Regions from separate parts of the Homo sapiens genome. Here region 1 is linked to region 2. Evidence: fine-mapped expression QTL. A gene starts in region 2. The other region holds a variant in brackets. All regions are shown on one strand. Distances are from middle to middle.

Region 1 (5,311 bases), 45 kb before region 2:
GAGTCCCCGGGCTGGTGTTCATTGTCTCTTCAGCAGCTGGGGCAGGAGTCCCCGGGCTGGTGTTCATTGTCTCTTCAGCAGCTGGGGTTTCCACAGTGGCATTGGCACCAAATTCTTCAACACACTGGATATCATCCCAGGACGTACAATTACTGACTTGGACTTCCCCACTAGGGCACCTGGGTACACACAGAGAGGGAGGTGAGGACTCCTGAGGGAAAGCTAGCCAGGTGGGATAAAAGGGGAGCCACCCTCCCTCTCCAATGTCCCTGAGAAGGTGTCAGGGGAAGGACAGGCTCCTGTCTGGAGGGGGTCCCCCAAGTTCCCTCGTTGAGGCTGGGGAAGGGTCTGAGCATGCGCATTTCAGCCCCTCAGCCTCCCTGCTCTGGGGCCACAGGAGCCTTCTGTGCCGGGCACACACTGAGCTTCCCTGGGCTGCAGAGGAGGCCTGCGTTAGGAGGAGCCACACTCCAGGGGAAGGTCACGAGCCCTTGTGGCCACAAGCTGAGCCCCTTCCTCCAGTCAACCCACAGTACAAGTGATCTCTCACCCCCAACTGTCTGCTGGTTCCTCCCTATCACGGCAAACATTAGGGGGCCAGAGAAGAACAAATTACTCTTGGCCCTTAAAGCCCAAATAGGGAAAAGACAGGACTTATTGAGGGATTGGGGCCAGGGGTGAGGCCGGCTGGATTGGCTCAGGCCTTCATGGGAACTTGAAGGAGCTCCACCCACAGCCTTCTTATGACTTTTGTCGGCCGTGACCACTTTTGTCTTTATGGGTCCTGCCTGCATAAAAAATATTAAAAAGAACATTTTTTAAAACAGCTTGGTATAGCAACAAATACAACCCAGACTGGATTCAAGTGTTTTCTTCTCATTTCAAAAGGAAATCGCATTTCCTAGGTTTGCTGAAAAGGATCAAGGGATCCAGAAAGTTGCTTCTTGTGCCCAGTGAACAAGTTGGTCTGGCCAAGGGGACTCGTGCTGGGGAGGGTCTGGGAAGGGGCTGCTGCAGGGGGTAGGGGTGGGGACAGGCAGATGGACCAGGAGCGGCCACTGCAGACCCAAGAGACCCCACAGGCTCAGGGACACCCCATGGGTCTGGAGGCTCCATAGGGTCAGCGGAGAAATAGGGGTACCAGGTGACTCAGGTCTTCTCGGGTTCCTGAAAGCTGTCAGGAGCCCCTGACTGCTGTCTCACCTGCTACACTTCCGGCACATCTCTGGGGAGTTTTCATTCCGGAAGGTGCCTTCTTTACACTGACACACTGTGTCTCTGGTCATGGTGCAGGAACTTTTATGTTTTTGATCTGACAACAGAGCATAAGGTTTTGGGAATGTGTTTCCCTGATGTATCCCTCGATCTTCCTTACCACCCACCCCCTCCCACTCAGCTCAACCAAGTTCACCAAGGAGTTCTAAGGGCCAGTTTCTGCACCAGCACACTCAGGGCTCATACAGGACACCCACCCTTCAGCTGTCACCAGCACTCAGAGGAGTCATAAAAAGGAGCATAATTCATTATTTATTACATCAGATTAGGGGAAAAGCATTGTTTAGATGGCATGGTCAGTAGCAAGGGAGGTGCAAGGGCATCACCTGAGAGACTCTGCAAGGAGACGGAGGCCTTGGGGGACTTCCCCAAAGCCTGGGCCTGCTGGGGAGGAGGAAGGGGCCTGAGAACCTGAAGGCTGAGTGAGGCCGAGCACCTGCCAGGAGCACAGAGCCTGGGGGAGAGAGCCTGGCCCTGGAGCAGACCCGTGCCACTACTGAAACCTAGCCCTGTCCACTGGGCCAGGCCTTCTCTATGCTCTAATGATCCCCCCACCCTCTTGCAGCTGACAGTTTAGACGATTTCCCAGCCAGGTGGCATGCATTATAGAAAAGATTTCTTTCTATTTTTTTAATCAGTCAAATATATAATCATAGAACAGGGTGATGAAGACCAGGTTGGGCTGGAACTTGGTTCCCTGACTCATATCGGCTACAACTCCCACCTCATTGCCCCACGCTCCACCTCTGGACAAGAGGTCCACACATTCTGTACCTGATTTACAAACTGTACATGGGAAGCAAGAAGGTTCATTGTTGGAAGCGTTGGTGTAATCCACACCCTCTGTGCA[C/T]GGGTTACAGGCTCCAGTATGTTCTGATCTATGAGATCCTGGGAAGGAAGAGAAAAGCCAATGAATGAGTCACCACAGAATTCCCAGAGGCTGACAGTGGTGGGGAAACTTCTTTTTTGGCCCTCACTGGAATTGAGACAGAGAAATCCACTCTTCCAGGCTTGGTCTTGTCATCCATTCAGCATCTATTACATACCTTTGACTGGCACTGCTGACAGAAATATAATACAAAATTCAAATTCTATGCAAAATTCAAATTCTATGAGAGCCATATTAAAATAGTAAAAAGAATGAGGCCAAATTAATTTTAACAATATAGTTTTAACCTAAAATATCTGAAATACTACATTTCAACATGTAATCAATACACATCATTGAGATATTTTACTTTTTTTACGCCGTCACTCACAAAATAACATCCAACCTACTGTACATGTGATCTGCCCATGCTGGTCCACCTGACCTGTTTGCTGTCCACTCACCACAGTGGCCCCCTGTCTTCGCTCAGTCTCCCCAAGCCCCCGAAACCTGGGGTTCTCATTCCTTCAGGGCCTTCTCAAGAGCACTCTTCCTGGCTCTCTGCAAGACTGGCCCTGTCCAACTTTAAATATCAGCCCAAATCACCATCCCCGAGAGGCCCCACCAACCTTGTCTATCTCCTGTCACTTAACTATTCTTCATGGTTCCCATCAGGACATCCTGACTGTTATGTATATTCATGTGTCTTTTTTTTTTTTTTTGAGACAGAGTCTTGCTCTGTCACCTGGCTGGAGTGCAGTGGCACAATCTCGGCTCACTGCAACCTCCAACTCCCTGGTTCAAGCGATTTTTCTGCCTCAGCCTCCCGAGTAGCTGGGATTATAGGCGACGCACCACCACGCCCAGATTTGTATGGAACTACAAAAGACCTCAAATAGCCAAAGTGATCTTAAGCAAAACAAACAAAAGAACAAAGATGGAGGCATCGTACTACCTGATTTTAAAACGTGTTACAAAAGTATAGTAATCAAAACTGAATGGTAATGGCACAACAATGGTAAATAAACTGATGGAACAAAATAGTGAACCCAGGTATAAATCAATGCATTTACAGTTGATTGATTGTGAGAAAGATACCAAGAACACAAAATGGGGAAAGGACAGCTCTTCAATAAATGGTGTTGAGAAAAGTAGGTATTGACATGCAGAAGAATGAAATAAGACCTTTATCTCACATCATATGTAAAAATTAATTCAAAATGGACTAAAGATTAAAACATAAGATCTGAAATGGTAAAACTACCACAAGAATACATAGGGGAAAATTTTCATGATGTTGGTCTGGGCAATGGTTTCTTGACTATGACCCCAAAAGCACAGGCAACAAAAGGAAAAACAGACAAATGAGGTTACATTACACTAAAAAGGTTCTGCATGACAAAGGAAACAATGAACAGAGTGAAGAGACAACCTACAGAATGAGGGTCAATATTCAAAAGATCCAAGATTTTGGTTAAAATCCAAAATACACAGGAACTCAAACATCTCAATAGCACACAATCAAATAATCCAAGTAAAATGGATACATGGGCGTGGGACCTGAATAGACACTTCTCAAAAGGAGACATAGAAGTGGCCAAAAAGTATATGAAAAAAATGCTCAGCATCACTAACCATCAAGTGCCAAATATCACTTCACACCTGTAAGAATGGCTATTACCAAAAAGACAAAAGGTAACAAGTGTTGATGATGGGGAGAAAAAGGAATGCTGGTACACTGTTGGTGGGAATGGAAATTAGTACAGCCATTATGGAAAACAGTATGGAGGTTCCTCAAAAAACAAAAAATAGAACAACTATATGATCTAGCAATCCCACTATTGGGTATACATCCAAAGGAAATGACGTCAGTATATTGAAGAGATATCTTCCCTCCCATATGCATTGGAGCATTATTTACAATGGTCAAGACATGGAATCAACCTACGTGTCCATGGATGGATGAAAAGTTAAAGAAAATGTGACACATAGATACAATGGAATACTATTCAGCCTTTAAAAAGAAGGGAGTTCTGTCATTTGTGTCAGCATGGATGAAGCTGGAGGATACTATGCTAAGTGAAATAAGCCAGGCACAGAAAGGCAAACACCTCATGATCTCACATATGTGGAATCAGAAAAAGTTGGTCTCATAGAGGTGGAGAGCAGAATGGTGATTACCAGGGCTTGAGTTGGATGGTGGGATGGGGAGATGTTAGTCAAAGGATACAAAATTTCAGTTAGACAGGGAGAATAAATTCAAGAGATGTATTGTGTGACATGGCGACTACAGTTATTAAAACAATGTGTTGTACAGTCCTGCCTTCTATCCACAGGGAATATATTCCATGGAACAAACTCTGCATATACTCAAGTCCCTGATATAAATTGGGATAGTATTGCATAAAACCCACGCACATATGCTTTAAATCATCTCTAGATTACTTGTAATACCTAATGCAATAGACATGCTATGTAAATAAGTGCTATACTGCATTGCTTTTTATCTGCTTTTATTGATGTATTATCATTTTTATTTCTTCCGCATATTTTTGATCTGTGGTTTGTTGCAACCATGGATACAGAACCCATAGATAAGGAAGGCTACAGAACCCACAGATAAAAAGGGCAAAGAGGGCTTATCCCAGGGCTCTGTATCCATACAGCTGAAAATTGCTGAGCAGATTTTTAAGTGTTCTTACCACGAATACATGATTAAGTATGTGAATTAGCTTGATTTAGCCATTCCACAATGCGTACATATTTCAAAACATCATGGTGTACATCATAAATACATACAATGTTTATCTGTCAATTAAAAATAAACTGATTTTTAAAAATAAGAGTGCACCTGCTGGACACTCCTCCCCCTTGAAGCTGTGCCTCTGTTGCTGTGGGGCCACTGTCTGCTGGGGAACTTCCTCCTGCCGGGCAGTGGTGGCAGAGTAAGCTAGGACCTGTGGGGACAAAGGAGTGATGGGTGTGAGTGACTTCCAGACCTCACCCCTCCCAGGCTCCATCTCACATTCCCTTCACCCCAAGTGACAAAACCCATCAGAGCTTGGACATTTTTTCCAGCTCCAAACTTTCATTCTTTCATACCTGTGTTTGTCCCTTGGCCTGTTAGGGCCAGCTATTTTCTATAAAAAAAAAAAAAAATACAGGCAA
Region 2 (5,375 bases):
ACTGACACCAGCCCTGCAATTTGTCCTCCTAGACCTGTTAACAGAGCCTGCAGAAGTTTACACAGGGCTGCTGAAGATTTTTATCCCCTCATTTTACAGGAAGGAGCTGGGGCCATACCAGAGTCAGAGCTGGACCGGGAGCACGGCAGGGCCCAGCCATCCACAGCCTCCAATTTCAGTACTCTCTAACAACCTGAGAGCCTGAGCCTTCGGATCTTCTTGATTCCTACTTTGATAAAGAGAGGGATGGGGTTGGAAGGACCTGGCATAGAGATTGGACCAGTCCGGCATTGACAGAGCCAGGACCTGGGGTCCGGAACTGAGCTCAGCTCCAGGCTCATCTGAAGTCACCCTGACAGCCTGAGGATGGAGACCTTATTTCCATTAACAGGCATGGCGGTTGGCAGGGACTGGCCCCAGCTGAGCACGGTTTTCCAAGTACACAGCTGGGAATTAAGTCTTCTCTGCCGCCCTCCCCTGTAGTCTTGCCTGGATCCCCCCAGTCATCTACTCCCAGTACCAAAAACTCCTGTATTCTTGAAAATCCGTAGTACTGAGAGGTGACAGCTTGCTGGCAGTCCTCAACAGCCCTCGCTCGCTCTCGGCGCCTCCTCTGCCTGGGCTCCCACTTTGGCGGCACTTGAGGAGCCCTTCAGCCCACCGCTGCACTGTGGGAGCCCTTTTCTGGGCTGGCCAAGGCTGGAGCCCGCTCCCTCAGCTTGCACGGAGGTGTGGAGGGAGAGGCGCGAGCGGGAACCGGGGCTGCGCGCGCGGCACTTGCGGGCCAGCTGGAGTTCCGGGTGGGCGTGGGCTCGGCGGGCCCTGCACTCGGAGCAGCCGGCCGGCCCTGCCGGCCCCGGGCAATGAGGGGTTTAGCACCCGGGCCAGCGGCTGCGGAGGGTGTACTGGGTCCCCCAGCAGTGCCGGCCCACTGGCGCTGCGCTTGATTTCTCGCCGGGCCTTAGCTGCCTTCCCGACGGGCAGGGCTCGGGACCGCCATGCCTGAGCCTCTCACCCCCTCCGTGGGCTCCTGTGCAGCCGGAGCCTCCCCGACGAGCACCTCCCCCTGCTCCAGGGCGCCCAGTCCCATCGACCACCCAAGGGCTGAGGAGTGCGGGCGCACGGCGCGGGAGCACGGCGCGGGACTGGCAGGCAGCTCCACCTGCAACCCCGGTGCGGGATCCACTGGGTGACGACACCTGGGCTCCTGAGTCTGGTGGGGACGTGGAGAACCTTTATGTTTAGCTAAGGGATTGTAAATACACCAATTGGCACTGTGTATCTAGCTCAAGTTTTGTAAACACACCAATCAGCACCGTGTGTCTAGCTCAGGGTTTGTGAATGCACCAATTGACACTCTGTATCTAGCTAGTCTGGTGGGGCCTTGGAGAACCTTTGTGTCCACACTCTGTATCTAGCTAATCTGGTGGGGAAGTGGAGAACATTTGTGTCTAGCTCAGGGATTGTAAACCACCAATCAGCGCCCTGTCAAAACAGACCACTCCGCTCTACCAATCAGCAGGGTGTGGGTGGGGCCAGATAAGAGAATAAAAGCAGGCTGCCAGAGCCAGCAGTGGTAACACTGTGGAAGCTTCCTTCTTTCCCTCTGCAATAAATCTTGCTACTGCTCACTCTTTGGGTCCACACTGCCTTTATGAGCTGTAACACTCACCTTGAAGGTCTGCAGCTTCACTCTTGAAGCCAGCGAGACCACGAGCCCACCAGGAGGAAAGAACAACTCCAGACCCACTGCCTTAAGAGCTGTAACACTCACTGGGAAGGTCTGCAGCTTCACTCCTGAGCCAGTGAGACCACGAACCCACCAGAAGGAAGAAACTCCGAACACATCCGAACATCAGAAGGAACAAACTCCAGACACGCCGCCTTTAAGAACTGTAACACTCACCGCGAGGGTCCGAGGCTTCATTCTTGAAGGCAGTGAGACCAAGAACCCACCAATTCCGGACACAGTACCATGAAGGAATGAAAATACATAACAATGTGATGTATCATGTTTTATTTCCTAGACTAGTGACAAATGAAAGCTAAGTGTAGCAAGGGTGCAGGGACACAGGCACATTTGTGGACTAGGTGTGAGTGTAAGCTGGGTTCGATGGTCTTTTGGCCAACATAGTGAACCCCTGTGTCTACTAAAAATACAAAAATTAGCCAGGCGTGGTGGTGCAGGCCTGTAGTCCCAGCTACATGGGAGGCTGAGGTGGGAGTATCGCTTGAACCTGGGAGACGGAAGTTGCAGTGAGCCGGGATCACACCACCGCTCACCAATCTGAGCCACAGAGAGACTGTCTCAAAAAATAAACCACAAGGAAGGGAGGTAGGGGGAGGGGGAGGGAGGGAGGAAAGAGAAAGAGAGAAAGGAAGGAAAGAGAAAGCAGGAAGGACGGAAAGAAGACGAAAGAACGAAAGAAAACGAAAGAAAAAAGGAAAGAAGAGAGAAGGAGAGAACAGAAGGGGCAGGTGCCCCTGGGAAGGGGAGAAGATCAAGACGCGCCTGGAAAGCGGACTCTGAACCTCAAGACCCTGTTCACAGCCAAGCGCGCGACCCCGGGAGGCGTCAACTCCCCAAGTGCCTCCCTCAACTCATTTCCCCCAAGTTTCGGTGCCTGTCCTGGCGCGGACAGGACCCAGAAACAAACCACAGCCCGGGGCGCAGCCGCCAGGGCGAAGGTTAGTTCCGGTCCCTTCCCCTCCCCTCCCCACTTGGACGCGCTTGCGGAGGATTGCGTTGACGAGACTCTTATTTATTGTCACCAACCTGTGGTGGAATTTGCAGTTGCACATTGGATCTGATTCGCCCCGCCCCGAATGACGCCTGCCCGGAGGCAGTGAAAGTACAGCCGCGCCGCCCCAAGTCAGCCTGGACACATAAATCAGCACGCGGCCGGAGAACCCCGCAATCTCTGCGCCCACAAAATACACCGACGATGCCCGATCTACTTTAAGGGCTGAAACCCACGGGCCTGAGAGACTATAAGAGCGTTCCCTACCGCCATGGAACAACGGGGACAGAACGCCCCGGCCGCTTCGGGGGCCCGGAAAAGGCACGGCCCAGGACCCAGGGAGGCGCGGGGAGCCAGGCCTGGGCCCCGGGTCCCCAAGACCCTTGTGCTCGTTGTCGCCGCGGTCCTGCTGTTGGTGAGTCCCCGCCGCGGTCCCTGGCTGGGGAAGAGCGTGCCTGGCGCCTGGAGAGGGCAGGGAGAGAGGGGGACACGGCGGGGGTGCGTGGCCCGGGTCGCCTGCGGCCGGGCATGTCCGGGCAAGACGCACCAGTCGTCGGAGTCGGGGGAAGAGATGGGTCCCCGGGTTGGGCAGGAGCGACCTGGGCCGCCAGGGAACAGAGCGCGCGCTCCACTTGGTGTAAATTCCCGAATCCAGTGGGGGAGGGCGACAAGGAGGGAATTCCCGAGTAAGCTGCGTGAAGCCACGGAGAGGTCGTCGGACTTTGATTTTGTTTTCTTTCCTTACTTTCTGTTTCTTTCTCTTTTTCTCTTTCTTCCTTTCTTTCCCTCCCTTCCTTCCTCGCTCAGTTCCTGCCTTAATTTCTTTTTCTTTTGCGCCTTCGAATGAATTCCTAAAGGCGCTCATTGCAGATCGCTTTGAACCTGCGGCCGGCGAAGAACTCCCCTGTGGTCGCTGCGGCCCAGTGGTTCCGTTCCGTGCGCGGGAGTCGTCGCGGGCGCAGCTGGAGAGGCCCCTTCCCCTCCTTAGCGGCTGCGCCCCTACGCGTGCGGGGCCGCTCATCGCCAATGCCATTGTTTGGGGTTCCTTGGGAAAACGAGATTTAGGAGAAGGGAGTTGTGGCACTTGGGGCCTGACCTGCTTGATAATAGCAGCTGCATTTTGGCCTGGGAAGAGCCTTTCTTGCCACCTCTTGGCAAGTATCCGTGATAATGGGGAAGGGACAAAGAGTCGGCTTTGTAGGGAACAGCATGGTGTGCTCAGCGCCTGGAACTGCGCTTGGGGCCAGGAGAGGTTCTGAATCATCACATTTTACAGAGGAAGAGACCGCAGCTCAGAGTGGGGAAGTGTGTGGGCCTAGACCTAACTCAAGACTGTACAGAGGGGCTGGAAGGGAGAGGAGGAACAGTGAAAGGAAGGTCAAGAGAATGCTGGTGTTGACCTAGAAGAATGTCAGTGTGAAGCATTGGAGTTTCATGGGATATTGTTACACACCTCATGTTTTCACTGTTTCCGCCCCACACCACAGTATGTCCTTGGTCTCACCTCTGAGTGGAGGGAGGACCTAACTGTCCTAGTGAGGAGAGTGTACAGGGGCCTCTGCCTCCCCCTCCTGCTGTGGTTTCTGTGGGCCTAGGTCCCCAGGGCATCTTGCCTCTCTTTGGGTGGTGGATCTTTGGTCTCTGGCTGCTTTTAAAGATTTTTCTTAGCACTGGTTTGCAGTGATTTGGTTTGTTTGCTCTGTTGTGGGGTTTTTTTTTTATCTCTATAAAGAATTTTTTGGATTTTTGGCTTTAGACTTTCATGTTCTTTCTACTTGGAAGATTTTTCTGTAAAGAAAGCCACAACTGGGTTGTGTTGAATTTCTTGGATTTGGGGTTTTAGAGTTTATGTTCTCCTTGGAGACTTTTCTGTAAAGAAAGCCACAACAGCCGGGTCTGGTAGCTCATGCCTGTAATCCCAGCACTTTGGGAGGCCGAGGCGGGCAGATCACATGAGGTCAGGGATTCGAGACCAGCCTGACCAACATGGTGAAACCCCGTCTCTACTAAAAATACAAAATTAGCTGGGTGTGGTGGTGGGCACCTGCAATCCCAGCTACTTGGGAGGTTGAGGCAGGAGAATCACTTGAACCTGGGAGGCAGAAGTTGCAGTGAGCAGAGATGGCGCCACTGCACTCCAGCCTGGGAGACAAGAGCAAGACTCCAACTCAAAAAAAAGAAAGAAAGAAAGCCACAACAGAGTTATGTTGAATTTCTTGGATTTGGGGTTTTAGAGTTTATGTTTTTGTTTGTTTGTTTGTTTGTTTTGAGATGGAGTCTTGCCTCTGTCGCCTAGGCTGGAGTGCAGTGGTGGGATCTCAGCTCACTGCAACCTCTGCCTCCTGGGTTCACGCCATTCTCCTGCCTCAGCATCCCGTGTAGCTGGGACTACAGGCATGCACCACCACGCCCAGCGAACTTTTTGTATTTTTAGTAGAGACGGGGTTTCACCGTGTTAGCCAGGATGGTCTGGCTCGTGATCTGCCCGCCTCAGCCTCCCAAAATGCTGGGATTACAGGGGTGAGCCACCACGCCCAGCCGAGTTTATGTTCTACTTGGAAGATTTTCAGCCATTATTTCTTCAAATACTCTGTCTCTTCTGGTGACTGAGATCTTATTATATTTACGTTAGAA

Which allele goes with the higher level. Alleles are on the strand shown, and positions count from the first base shown. SD is a standard deviation of normalised expression in the study named.
For the expression in T cells of the gene that starts at base 2,876 in region 2, T is the low allele of the variant in region 1 and C is the other (large effect, 1.4 SD a copy in GENCORD).

What was found.
Region 1: its variant is fine-mapped to the expression of TNFRSF10B in T cells (GENCORD, PIP 0.95).

What each region holds. Positions count from the first base shown.
Region 1 is chr8:23,111,509-23,116,819 of GRCh38, reverse strand. TNFRSF10C (TNF receptor superfamily member 10c) reads right to left here. Exons shown (of 5, transcript NM_003841.5): 2 at 4,995-5,100; 3 at 2,050-2,163; 4 at 1,204-1,312; 5 at 1-179. Among named protein-coding and RNA genes, the nearest start is that of TNFRSF10C, 11 kb to the right of the region's middle. The variant C/T (reference allele first, on the strand shown) is at 2,126.
Region 2 is chr8:23,066,532-23,071,906 of GRCh38, reverse strand. It overlaps TNFRSF10B (TNF receptor superfamily member 10b), which reads left to right and starts at 2,876. Exons shown (of 9, transcript NM_003842.5): 1 at 2,876-3,156. The coding sequence starts at 3,013. It also overlaps the pseudogene TNFRSF10B-AS1. RefSeq lists enhancers at 556-1,055, 1,377-1,671, 2,453-2,622, 2,643-2,692, 3,233-3,492, a cis regulatory region at 2,886-2,891 and promoters at 2,346-3,016, 1,784-5,375.